Linked DNA regions of Homo sapiens. The protein of the gene in region 1 interacts with the protein of each later gene in a pairwise test. Each region holds a gene or a part of one and is shown on either strand. Other genes may lie near its edges.

Region 1 (7,208 bases):
AACTCTTTAGTCCACAAATCACTACATAAATAATTATGTAATTAACAGATGCACACTGTCATCAGTAACCAGCCACATCATTTCTTTCAAAGTATGTTGATGGTTGGTCACTGTGCATCTGTTATGCAGCTCATGCAGAGATAGCAAAGCATGTAGTTTTGTACCTCCTTGTCTCCCAATGATAAAGTATGTGACATTTAGAAAAAGAGATAATAAAAAGAGGAAACTGGCCAACAAAGACGAAATACAGCAAAGAAATGAAAAGTAATAATGCTGAAATTTCAAATAGAAATGCTGAATTTCAAATAGAAAGTAAAGAATTATAGAAGAAACAGATGACCAAGGGAATGCTGACACTATCGCTCTAGATACACAGAGAACTCAGTGAAGGCAAACTTATTGACATAAATGAGGAAAGCGGTTGTGACGAAAATTTTCCAGAGGACGTGAGGCTGGCAAAAAATATTCATATTAAAGGAAATCTCAGAGATACTTCACAACATGGAAAATACAGACAAAATGCTTCATAAAATTAACATATGGCATATAGAATTTATTCAATAACAAATTAAAAATTTCTTACCTTGGTAACTTTTTATACAAGAATCGCTTTAGGTCCTGAAAGAGAGCATTAAAAAATAATGTTGTAATAATAGGCCTTCCACTGTTTTCTAGATCCTGTCCTATCCAAATTTTAAGGAACTTCAGTTATCATTCATAACCTTTCTTGCTGTGTTTTATCTTTCTCTGTCTGATTTGGATGTTTACTAGTCACGCAACTTGGAGTAAGTTAACCAACCTTTTTTCGCTAAGCTTATTTCATTATTTGTTGAATAGGGCTAATATAGAACCTACATCATAAAAGTGTTGTTAAAAGTTTATTGAGAAGATGCATGGATTAGCATACCTAGAAATGGGAAACACATTTTAGCCATAAAATTACATCATAATTTTCATACTAGTGTTTTACATCCTGTTGCTATTGTGTTCACTTGAGAAGACGTTATAAACACCTTTCCATGTTCAAAGATAGACTTTCCACCATCATCTTAATGGTCTTGGGTAAGGTGATATGACCTCTGTAAGACTGTTGTCTCACGTGACTATCACATTATAAAAATATGCCTTCCATTGTTTCATTATTTGTTGAACTCACCTACTCAACAAATAATGAAACAGTGTAAGGCATATTATTATAACGTAATTTTTAAAATATTTTGTTTAAGGACCTAAAATAAATTCTATATGACTATGTGAGGCAACATTTTTTTTTTTTTTTGAGACGGAGTTTCGCTCTTGTTGTCCAGGCTGGAGTGCAATGGCGCGATCTCGGCTCACTGCGACCTCTGCCTCCCAGGTTCAAACGATTCTCCTGCCTCAACCTCCCGAGTAGCTGGGATTACAAGCACCTGCCACCATGCCCAGCTAATTTTTTGTATTTTTAGAAAAGACAACGTTTTACCATGTTGGCCAGGCTGGTCTCGAACTCCTGACCTCAGGTGATCCACCCGCCTTGGCCTCCCAAAGTGCTGGGATTACAGACGTGAGCCACCGCGCCCAGCCCAGTGTTACAGAATATAAAATAAATGACAATGTGTGTCAAGTGTTTAACACGAAACACAGTTAAGACTAAAGAAGTAGAAGACTATTTTATTTTTCTAAGCTGGGGCTCACTGCAACTTCCAACTTCTGGGCTCAAGCAATCGTCTCGCCTCACTTCCAGCATAGCTGTGACTACAGAGGTATCAATGCGCCTGGCTGATTTTTAAATTTCTTTTTGTAGAACGGGGTCTTGCTATGTTGCCCAGGCTGATCTTGAACTCCCGGCCTCAAGTGATCCTTCCATCTCGGCCTCCCAAAGTGCTGAGATTACAGACTAAGCAACCGCATTGGCCAGAAGACTATCTTATTTTGTCTCATTACACTCTCTTATCCCAGGAATTTCACTGACAATTTAGGTATCAATTTTGACCTCACATGGATTAATCAGGTATCTCTTGTTTTGAGCATCCAGCACTTACTATTCTCCAAACCCGACTGATCATTTTATCCTCCTACACACACACACACACACGTTACCATGTTTCTAAAGAGGCATGGGTTAGAAATCATCGTAAATTGCTACAATAAACCAAATGAGATATTGTTATCACTTACTGGAAAAAAGTATTGTGGGTACATGTCCTACTGACCAAATTCTGACAGGAAAAGCAGCAAACCATCATTCAGAATTTCAAATGGTAAATATACAGAGCCTCTCTTATGCCCCAGCTGGACTGGGGAGTAGGGAGAACCTAATTTTCTCAGTCTCAAGCACCTTAGTGTCCTACACCCCCATTCGAGGCAGAAACTCAGGATCCTGCAAATTCATTCATATTAGTCTCCCACTTCAGATATCAGAGAAAATAATTAACTGGGATGGGTGGGGCTGGGAGGATCAAAACAAATTTCTGTTTGGGAAGTTCTACCTCTCCCCGCTCAGTATGCCCCTCAAAATTCCCCACTCTCCCCTTCCTCTTATGTAGGGGTGTCACTCACATCCGCCATGATGAACCCCCTTCTCTCGCAGGATCAATCTCCACGCCTGGAAGAGAAACTCCCGGTGACTCTTCCCTCTTTGGCTTCCTCGTCCTCCCCACCCACAACTTAATACGCGAGATCAGCCCTGGTCAGAACCAGGTAAAACCCCCGCGGTTCTAGGGCTTGGCCCAGCGAGCCCAGTGGGAGTCGGAGTGCCCCAGCACCCCCACAGGTACTCAGCTGGCACACCTTACCTCAGCCCACCCCATCCCTGCCCCTCCACCCCAAAGAGCTAGGCCCAAAGAAAAGAAGAGAGGGTCCTCTCCTTCTGTTTAATCTCACCACCCGCGCCACCTGCGGGACTAGGCCTCAAAACCAGGCAAAGTAGCGCCAGTTACCTGGGGTTTCTGGGCTGCCTGGTTCTCTCCGCTGTCACTTCAGGGACAGCTTTAAAGACAGGTTCCTCCTCAAGCCACCGTCACATGATTCATGACCTCGTCTGCGCTCCAGGAAGCACTTTCTAAGCCGCCGTCGCCCTACGATACGGGATTTCCGGAGGGGCCCGGCGGAAGCTGCGAGGGCGCGTCCGGCGGCCGCGCCCCTCCCCTCCCCCCCGCCCCGCACGCGCCCCGCCCCTCCCCCGCCCACCGCGGGCCGCGTCTTGCGCCTGCGCCTTGTGTCACGGGCCGAAGGAAGTCAGCTGTGGGGTAGATTTGTACGAGATCGCTGGACCCTAAGGAACCCAGAAAATGCAAGCAAGGTTATGTGTTACAAGACATTCTTGTGCAGAGAGGGTGTATAAATGTCATTAGTTTTGCAGGGTCTGTTATCTTAAAACCTTTTCTTGTAGATGAAGAAATTTGAGGGGATGGTGTGATGAGCTGAAGAGCAAGCACCAGATTGCCTGTGATTGGAAGTACCAGGTCCACAGGTTTCTGACCTGTTTCCTAGGCTCTTGTGACTTCCCCATGGGTGCTCTTTACTGAAGGCCTTACCTAGATTGAATGGGGAGGAGCCATGGGTTTTCTGGAGCACTTCAAGCGTCTACTTTTAACATGCAGACACTGATTACGGGCACCTTCTATGTTCCCTTTTACATCAGAATTTTTAAAAATTAGTAAGGTCTCATGTAATAAATAATAATTGAAAAAAATAAAAGGCTTTCCGGGTGCGGTGGCTGACGCCTGTAGTCGCAGCACTTTGGGAGTCCGAGGCGGGACGATCCTTTGAGCCCAGGAGTTCCACAGCAGCCTGGCAAGATAGGACCCCATCTCTACAAATAATAATAATAATTAAGAATTATCCGAACGTGGCGTGCACCAGGTACTCGGGAGGCTGAGGCAGGAGGATCCCTTGAGCCCAGGGTTTGAGGCTGCATCGAGTGGTGATCGCCCCACTGAACTCCAGCTTGTGTGACAGAGCGAGACCCTCAAAAGAAAAGCTTCTTTAGAAATCGCATCCTCTTTCAGCTACCACACTGTTTTTCCTCTACTCCCTTTCATAGCCAAATTTTCAGAAAACTTTAGCCTGGTTTTCAATTGCTGCTTCCATATGTCACAAATCTAATCAGAGTTCTGTTGATTCTACCTCCTATCTTTGAAAACTATTCACCTATCTATATTCCTACCCTACTCCAAGCCATGATCATCTCTCTTTTGACAACAACCTCCTATTCTTCTTACATTCTCTTTTGCCCTCCAGTCTCCACACAGCAACAAAAATGATGTTCTAAAGACCCAAATCACATCATTTAACTCCTTCCTTGAAAATCAAGTTTATTGACTTAGGATAAAGTTCAATATCAGCATCATGGTTTATATATCATTCTTATGGGGATCTGGCCCCTATCTTAATTCTCTCACCTACCCTGGATTCCTTATGCTATGATCATACAAGTTTGTTTTCACTTCCATAAAGATTTTTATCACTTTACCAACTTAGCACGTTCTGCCTGAGATATTTCTCTAGCATACCTTAATCCTACTAATCTCATCTTTTGCATTTTGGCTTAAACTCACTCTCAGAGAAGCCTTCCCTGACCCTCACTGAATAGTTTAGGTCTTCTAGATAAATGCTTTCATTGTACCCTGTAATTTTCTTTGTAGAATTTATCATAATTATAATTATTTACTTGATATTTATTTTCTTTGCTAGATGTAAACTCTTTAAGGTTTTTGTCTTTCTTATTCAGTGATTAATTCCCAGCACCCAGCTCACTGCCTGGGATATAGCAAGCATTGACATACTTGTTGAATAGTTGAATGAATGAAAGAGTGGCCATATTGAGTATAAAACATGATAAAAACAAACATTTTACAGTGAGAACAGACCTTTTTATTAATATATTGAGATAAACTACAGAGACTGAAAGACAAAAATTCATATTTCATTCAGAACATTCATTAAAAATCAAATGCATTTGAGTTCTCACAGAAAATTTTATGTAAGTCTGATATAACATTAAATATTTTACAAATCAGACATTTCATTTTGAAATCTAATTTTTAATCCTGAATGCATTATAGACAAAGTAAGCTCTCCTTTACCAATTTCATTTAACTTATACAAGGCTTCCATTATAATTCCATCAAACCTTAAAAATTACCTGCAGCTTTTAAAAACACATAAAGTAAATGGAAAGAAAGTCTTATGTAGCAATCCAAAAACTAAAACTAGAAATTGGCAAGAAGCATTTCTTAATACAGATAAACTGCAAAATATCATTTATGTGTGTTTCTTCTCATTGGTTTAATCATCCTATTAAAAATAATTTTTTGAAAGTAATAATTACAATACTCCAATGTCACTGAAAATCTCTATGATTTTAATGGTGTCCTTAAATGGCAAAGTAGAATATCAGACTGAAATGTACAGAGTGTTGTGCTGAAGTGAATGAGACTTGCCATGCCAGGTGTCATCTGCTATGCAGTTACAAGACATCTTGGCAACTAGTCATCCCAGTTTTTACTAACTTACTAAACAAGGACATTTCAAGAAATACTTCTTACCCCTATGTATTTCCAGATGGCTGGATATAGAAAGATATAATTATGTTTGAAGCATGGGCCTTATAATAGGAATCTCTCCATTAAAATATGAAAAAGAGCAACAAATAATTCACACCAATGAAATTGTGTTGACTGATTTTCAAAGTCAGACATAAAAATATCCACTGCTAATGGAAGCCCTGCTCTGTGCAAACATAGTGTGGTATATATTAAACAATCACACATTTGAGGTAATTAGCTGGGAAAAAAAAAAAAAAATATATATATATATATATACACCTATACATAGACACATCCACAGAATATTCACAAATCTATTGGCCCCAACACCAGCAGATAGTCATATTAAATGAAAAATATCACATACCAACAGGAAAAAGTTACACATAGGGAATATACAAAAAATATGGTGCTATAATCCTTAATATAAGGAGTATGTTTTGAATTAATGTTTTGAGGAAAAGTGTTTCCATTTATATGAAAGTATCTATTTAATAGTAATAAAACCAAAAAGGAAGCTGAATTCTAGGACTGTTTTACCTGCCAAATAATTGAAGGGATGAGCAAGAATTCCTTGAAAAGCCTCATTCTATCCTTTTTCTTTGTAACTAAAAATTAGAATTTAAAATGTTGGAAATTATTGCCAGACAAGTTTCTTTTCATTGGTTTATAGGGAATTTTATGGATTTTAACTAGGCAATGGTCCAATGTGGTCAACAGACATGGTTTTTCAGCTGTTGAATGAAAATTAAAATAAAGATTTATTGTTGATTTTCATTAGTTTTTCTGTTCAGATAAGAAAAAAGATTATGAATTCCCTTTCAGTTTGCTTCACTCATTATGAAGATGGATAGTAATAGGATAGTACTGAACCCAAGCTTCACATGGGGAAGCTCAAGAAATGTACAAATTCTCTTCTTAACCATTTGGTCCTCTGATATAAAACTTGCTTAACTGGCAAGATGGCTCACTTGGTCCTCAAGCCAACATCAAGAAATATTTAGCTGTCTTAACACAGGTGGGAGACTTTTTTTTAATGAAATACATAGGAATCCATTAAGTAACATTAGCATGTCATGTGTTAAATAGCTTCATTTAAAAATGTTACAGATCAACAGAAGGGAAATCAAAAACTTATTTTTCTCAGTAACTACTTTACATACTAGTGTAATTAAAGGTTTAACTGGAAGAAAAATTCAGCATAAAAGTATAATTAAAGTAAAAAGCTGGTATTCCACATTCCTGTTCCTATGAACACCTGAGCTGGCACAAAAGCTGAGTAGTTTAATGCATTGGCATATATATGCCTTAAGGACTGTACTTTTCTCTACCAAATCTTTGTAAATCATAAACAAGCATGTAATGATTATGAAACAAATACTTATTTAGGTGTTCAAATGTAATCTGTTTACAAAATATATTATTTTCACTTATTAGATGAATTCAACTTGACATTTTTCATTGCTGAGAATTCAGTTCACATTTAATCAAACTACATTTCGAAATTTACAGATGACTAAATGACTAGCACCAGTCTATTTGGGAACTAAGGAATCAAAAGAAGAGGAGAAAGGTACTATTTTTCATTTCCCCCAAACCCTCACAAGGACAATAATGTTTGTGTGTATATGCATGGGTGTATTTGTGTTTACACAAAAAGGGGTAAAAATGTAAAGCATT
Region 2 (7,213 bases), on another chromosome or scaffold:
GTGAAAGAATGGGTTGGGCTGGTACTGAGGGCCTCTGCCCATCAAGAGGGGAGAGGAGGGCTGAGGAATTGGGAGGGGAATCAGATAGACAAGTCATACATACCTTGAGCGAAGGGGTAAGGGTTGGCTTTTGAGCTCGTAGAAGCTGTCAGGATCAAGGACGTTTTCTAATTCTATGTCAGCAACAATCCCGGATTCCGGAAGCAAAGAGTTCAGGCTGAGGGGGAGGTGGAGTGGTGGTCAGTGATTGAATGAAGGACCTTATTCCCCAGCCCTCCCCTGAGACAGAGAAAGAGAGAGAGAGGGGGGGAGAACGAAGAGGAGGGTACAAGCCCCTCATATTTGGCCACCTTGCTGGGTACCACACCACCATGAATTCCCACCTCCTTCCCCCATCCCCCTTTCCCTTCCCCACTGTGTTACTCATAGTCCCTTAGGAGTCAGAATAATAAGAACGCCTGCATCCCAACCCCCACACTGTAACAACCTGGGTTTGAGGAAAACAGAATTTAGGAATAACAATTCACTTTATAGAAGGATTCCTGACTTCCTATTCAGAGTTCTCCCAGCCCCCATACCCCCTACTTTTTTTTTTTTTTTGAGACAGAGTATCGCTCTGTCACCAGGCTGGAGTACAGTGGTGCGATCTCAGCTCACTGCAAGCTCTGCCTCCTGGGTTCAAGTGATTCTCACGCCTCAGCCTCCCGAGTAGCTGGGATTACAGGCACACGCCACCACGTCCGGCTAATTTTTGTATTTTTAGTAGAGACGGGGTTTCACCGTATTAGCCAGGATGGTCTCGATCTCCTGACCTCAAGATCCGCTTGCCTCGGCCTCCCAAAGTGCTGGGATTACAGGTGTGAGCCACTGCGCCCGGCCAACCCCCTGCTATTTTCTTTACAGCTGAATGTGAGCCCAGGTATATGTGTGTACACACACACACACACAGAGCAAGTAGGGGCATCCCTCAGCATAACAGTCCCTTGTAACACAAACTGAATGCATCACAAAGAGAACTGGAAATAATTCACTTGACGTAAAGATCTACCATTTCACAAATGAGTTTCTCCCAGCCCCAGCCAGAGTTCATGGGATGCCAACACATGCCTAAATATAAAATAGAAATATCAAAGGCTCCCCTCGCTCCAACAGACTGGATTTACAAGAGGGAGAATTTGGGTGGTTGATCCACTTTATACAAGCATTCTTTTCTTACCGGAGGAGCCTGCCCAGCCTTCTCCTGTTTTTTTGGATAGATCAAAACACACACACACCCCCAACACTAACACCCACTGGCGCACAAAATAAGAAGCCATATACACCCATCCCTTTAACTATGTCCACTACTGCGATGATCTAGGTTGTTACAGAGGAATTAGAAGATGGTGAATCGATATACAGAAAGGCTCTGCTCAGCCCCAGAGAGCAAGGGACAGTTAACACACACGTGGATGAATATGCATCCTTCAATTTAGCTAAACATTTAGAATGCTGAGAGATTGCTGGTGACTTCACTTGACAAGAATCCTCTCCCCTCCCCAAGGATCTGTCTTCCTTCCTCTCCTCACCCTCAGATGGAGCCCTAAAACCACCCAGGAAGTTGGGAAGAGGAAGCTCGGGCGAGCCACTGAGCTCAGCACAATCCCAGGCACAAAGGAGGCAAAGACCCCCCCCCACCCAGGGCTCACACACCCATTGCACAGAAGTTGGAAGAGATGGGCACTGGGGTGAGCAGGGAGGGCTGGGGCTCCAAAGCCCATTGATGAAAGTAAGGATGAGAAGAGGCCAGAGGGGATCCACCCAGGCAGGGATGGTGCAATCTGTACTCGTTCCAGCTCTATGGACAGATTCAAGATTACCCCCAGGAGCTCGGAGATCGAAAAGAAGATAAAAAGAAAAGGGGTGTGGGGCTAGGGAGTGGGAAGGGCTGAGAGGCTAGAGCGAGTAGCAGCATGAACAAGAGCCTCCTCTGGGTTCCCAAACAAGGTCTGAGGCCTCTGAGCTAAGAGGTAACATCATCGCCCTCTGCCTGGCTGTCTATCTTCCATTCAGGCCCTTAACAGGTGTGGGAAGAGGGCTTTTCCACTATCCTTGGGATCTGCCCCAGCTGGGTAGGCGGGCAGAGGGGAAAGGATTATTCTGGTCAAGTCTTGCTGAATGTTGCTTCTCTTGTTCATTCACACGCACTCACAAGGCTGGTCCCAGGCAGCATATCTGAGATACCTCCAAATCCCTCCAGATTCATGTTATCCCCAAACACAGCAACCAGTCACTGAGAGGCACCAAGCTCCCAAGACAGCACTTCTGTCCCTCAGGACCCCTTCTCCCACACTGAGGGAAAAAAGATTCTAGGATTCCCTTAAAACCAGTGCCTCACCTGACAGTGTCCCCTCAAATTCATTCCCCTCATGTCCGACTGAAAATCCCCGAATTCAGCCTCTAATCAGAGACCCTGTCTACCAAGTTCAGCTATCTCAGACCAGTTTCTGGATACTCCAGAATAGGCCCCTCTAGACGCAGTCAAGGGCTCCCCAAACCTGACCCAGACCCCGCTTAATGCACTCCCACGACTCCTTTAATAAAGCCACAATCCAAGCAGGCCACTGCCGGATTCCTTAGGTGCCCCCCCAAGACGGGCGCCCCGACGTCCTCCAAGGCTAGGCCGAGGGCCTCCAATCCCAGTCCGGGGCCCCCACTGCCCCCGAGATCAGGCCCCTGGGAGCCCCAGTCGGCACTCCCAGCCCCAGGCGGCCCCGCACCTGAGCAGCTGAGCCGAGTCGGCCGGCCTGCGCTCCTCCAACAGCACGAACACGGCTCGAGGGCCCTCCGCGCTGGCCTCTACGCCATCCCGAGCTGGTTCGGCCGCATGAGACATGACGCCCGGCCCCGGGCGAGCCCTGCCAGGCCGGTCGGGCCTCGGCCCGGTCCCCCTAACAAAATAAGAGTCCCCCCTCCCCCCAGCTCGCCACCGCCGCCTCCTCCGCTAAGCCATGGAGCTAGCACTGCGCGGGCGGGCGGCGTCGGGGAGATGGGATGGGCTGTGAGTCATCCCCCGCCCAGAACGGACCGACGCCCCCCCTCAACCTAACCCCGGACGACCGCCCTCCTCCCCCTCGTCTTCTTCCCCCTCCTCCCTCCTCCCAGGGATGGGGAAACTCCACAGGAAGTGACCGCACTGGGGATGGATGGCCCGTCTGGCCACGACCCATTAGCGAGGCGGCCAATCGCTGAACGGCGATTCGAGGGCCCACCCTAAGCGACGCCTCCGACGCGGAGGAAAAACGCGATTCGGCCCGCCCTCATTCCGAGAAGCAGCACCCAGACCACGCCCTCAGGGGCAGCGACAAATAGGCGAGGGTTGATTTGGTTGAACCACGCCTCTATGTTTGCGTCGCTTTCGGAGCCACGCCCTCTCTTCTCAAATTATCCCTCTGCAAGGTAATATTAAGCCGCTCCTTGGGTCCTCTGCGCCTGCGCATCGATGGCCAGTCGGCGCACGGAGGGTCTCCTGGCCAAGCTTTTAGCTGCGGAACCGCGCCCTCTTTCGGCCAATATTTGTAATATCTGAGCCCTAGACCGCGCTCCAACCTCGATCTGGCTGTGCTCTCTCAGCCAAAGCCATAACTATGAGGCAGAGGCAGCTACATTCCCTGAAGGTGCGGGCCAGAAACCCCCCCCTTTCGCTGTCCGCAGTCCAGCCGCCCAGCTGGTCTTCCGGGAGTATTCCGCCTGTTCCATGCCATCGAGAGCGGTTGTACTATGTTCATTGCGCTGCGCAATATGTGCTTAATAAATTCTTGACGGGTGAATGAATCTGGTCCCTTCGGTGAATGACGACTTCTGGAATCACAAAGATCCAGGTTTGAATAGGGAAGGGGACCTCCCCTCTCCCAGCCTCAGCTTTCCTGGCCTGTTAAATGGGGGTCAAAATACCTGTCTGGCAGGGTTGTTCTGAGGATTAAAGATAATGTATGAAAAGTGCTAGCAGGTTGTTTGGCATACAAGAAGCTTCCCAAAATTAGTTGATTCACTCATTTGTTCACTTATTCAACATTCACTGAGCGCTTCTGTATGCCAGACGCATGCAAGCCGGCTCGCACAAGGCGGAGGGTCTCACTCATATATCCTCAGGTGCAAATAGCTCACAAAACACCCAGACCTACAGCCTTCCCTTCCTCTTTCCTGACATCCCAAGACCCCACCCTGAGTTGCGCCTCCAGGAATTTCACCGGGCTTTCATTTACCTTGGACCTTCCTGTATTGGCATCATTATTTCACAGGTCTGTCAGTTGCTTTCGTAAACTCATCCATACTCACACACAACCATCTCGTACAAGGGGGAAACCTCTACATAATAAAGATGACTTCTGGCCGGGCGCGGTGGCTCATGCCTGTAATCCCAGCACTTTGGGAGGCCGAGGCGGGTGGATCACCTGAGGTCAGGAGTTTGAGACCAGCCTGGCCAACACGGTGAAACCCCGTCTCTACTAAAAATACAAAAAATTAGCCGGGCGTGGTGGCGGGCGCCTGTAATCCCAACTACTCGGGAGGCTGAGGCAGGAGAATCCCTTGAACCGGGAAGCAGAGGTTGCAGTGAACCAAGATAGTGTCACTGCACTGCAGCCTGGGTGACAGAGTGAGACTCAGTCTCAAAAAAAAAAAAAAAAGAAAAAAGAATACATTACCAATTGTACCAATCAAAACTCTAAAACGGAACTTGTAGATCCAATGTTAAAATTCCTATGATGCCTTAAACATGTAAGAATGGGCCGGGCACGGTGGCTCACACCTGTAATCCAGCAGTTTGGGAGGCCAAGGTTGGTGGGTCGCTTGAGGCCAGAAGTTCGATACCAGCCTGGCCAACATGGCAAAACCTCGTCTCTACAAAAATACAAAAATTAGCCGGGCGTGGTGGTCTGCGCCTGGCCTGTAGTCCCAGCTACTCGGGAGGCTGAGGCAGGAGAATAGCTTGAACCCGACAGGCGGAGGTTGCAGTGAGCCGAGATCACGCCACTGCACTCCAGCCTGGGGCGACAGAGTGAGACTCTGTCTCAAAAACAAAAACAATGGCCCAGTGCGGTGGCTCACGCCTGTAATCCCAGCACTTTGAGAGGCCGAGGCAGGTGGATCACTTGAGGTCAGAAGTTCAAGACCAGCCTGGCCAACGTGGCAAAACCCTGTCTCTACTAAAAATACAAAAAAATTAGCCAGGCATGGTGGCGTGCGCCTGTAATCCCAGCTACTAGGGAGGCTGAGGCACAAGAATCGCTTGAACCCGGGAGGTGGAGGTTGCAGTGAGCCAAGATCGTGCCACTGCACTCCAGCTTGGGAGACAGAGCTAGACTCCGTCTCAAAAAAAACAAAAACAAACATGTAAGAATGGCTAATTTTACAAAAGAAGAAAGAGGAGGGTCTGGCGGGGTGGTTCCCACCTGTAATCCCAACACTTTGGGAGGCCAAGGTGGGAGAATTGCTTGAGCCCGGGAGTTTGAGACTAGTCTGGGAAACATAGGGAGACCCCGTCTGTACAAAAAAACTTTTAAAAAATTAGGCCGGGCATGGTGGCTCACGCCTGTAATCCCAGCACTTTGGGAGGCTGAGGCGGGAGGATCACAAAGTCAAGGGATTGAGGCCATCCTGGCCAACATGGTGAAACCCCGTCTCTACTAAAAATACAAAAATTAGCTGGGCATGGTGGCACGCGCCTGGCCTGTAGTCCCAGCTACTTGGGAGGCCGAGGCAGGAGAATCTCTTGAACCCAGGAGGCGGAGGTTGCAGTGAGCCGAGATTGCACCACTGCACTCCAGCCTGGGGACAAAGTGAGACTCTGTCTCAGAAAAAAAGAAAAAAAAAGAAAAGAAAAGAAAAGAAAAATTAGCCAGGTATGGTGGTGCACACCTGTGGTCCCAACTACTTGGGAGGCTGAGGCAGGAGGATCGCTTGAGCCTGGAAAGTTTGAAGTTGCAGTGAGCCGTGTTTGTACCACTACCCTCCAGCCTGGACGACAGAATGAGACTCTGTATCAATTAATCAATAAATAAAACTACATACTGTCTGATGAAAGATGCTACAAAGTTAAAAGACTTACAACAGACTGGCAACAAATATTTATAGCAGTAGAGCCACAGAGTAATTATCTTGTCACACATCCCAATCCTACAAACACCAGCTTCACACACGCATCTCAAATGTCTCCATGACAAGTGATATCCCATGACACCCTGCATGATATGCCTACCCTGCATCTTTCTGGGTTTCTCTCTCTCTTTTCTTTTTCTTTTTTTTTTGAGACAGAGTCTCGCTCTTGCCCAGGCTGGAGTGCAGTGGCACGATCTCGGCTCACTGCAAGCTCCGCCTCCCGGGTTCACGCCATTCTCCTGCCTCAGCCTCCCCAGTAGCTGGGACTACAGGCACCCGCTACTATGCCCGGCTAATTTTTTTGTATGTTTAGTAGAGACGGGGTTTCACCATGTTAGCCAGGATGGTCTCGATCTCCTGACCTCGTGATCCGCCTGCCTCGGCCTCCCAAAGTGCTGGGATTACAGGCGTGAGCCACTGCACCCGGACTTCTTTTTTCTTTTTCTCTCTCTCTTTTTTTTTTTTTTTTGAGATGGAATCTCGCTCTGTCACCCAGGCTGAGGTGCAGTGGCACTATCTCGGCTCACTGCAGCCTCTGCCTCCTGGGTTCAGGCGATTCTCCTGCCTCAGCCTCCCAAGTAACTGGGATTACAGGTGCCCGCCACCGCGGCCAGCTAATTTTTTTTGTATTTTTAGTAGAGACAGGGTTTCCCCATGTTGGCCAGGCTGGTTTCAAACTCCTGACCTCAAGTGATCCGCCCGCCTCGGCCTCCCATAGCGCTGGGATTAAAGGCATGAGCCACATGCCCGGCCCTAGTTTCTATCAATATCTCATTCTCAACTTTCTCAATACTTGCACCCCTGCCATATAGTTGGAGTTCCTTTCTTTCTTTCTTTCTTTTTTTTTGGAGACAGGGTTTCGCTCTGTCATCCAGGCTGGAGTGCAGTGGTGCGATCTCGGCTCACTGCAACCTTATCTGGGGTTTCACTGCAAGACAACTTCAAGGTGCTGTGAAGGGGACATGTGGAGCGAAGTGGGAGGGCAGCTGGATGGTGAAGTTGGGGGTATTTAGGGATAGATATGAGTGGTGATTGAAGGTGGCTTGGGGGTGAGTTTGGGTTCTACAACAGGACA

The links.
Region 2: the proteins of LAMTOR3 (region 1) and TFE3 interact in binary tests that used the Homo sapiens proteins (3 or more experiments, as listed by UniProt).

The regions. Positions count from the first base shown.
Region 1 is NC_000004.12:99,891,417-99,898,624, forward strand, and holds the start of LAMTOR3 (ragulator complex protein LAMTOR3), read right to left. Parts: upstream 3,012-7,208; 5' UTR 2,919-3,011; intron 2,585-2,918; 5' UTR 2,548-2,584; coding exon 2,539-2,547; intron 619-2,538; coding exon 584-618; intron 1-583. UniProt on the Homo sapiens protein: As part of the Ragulator complex it is involved in amino acid sensing and activation of mTORC1, a signaling complex promoting cell growth in response to growth factors, energy levels, and amino acids.
Region 2 is NC_000023.11:49,040,352-49,047,564, forward strand, and holds the start of TFE3 (transcription factor E3), read right to left. Parts: upstream 3,007-7,213; 5' UTR 2,876-3,006; coding exon 2,760-2,875; intron 218-2,759; coding exon 104-217; intron 1-103. UniProt on the Homo sapiens protein: Transcription factor that acts as a master regulator of lysosomal biogenesis and immune response.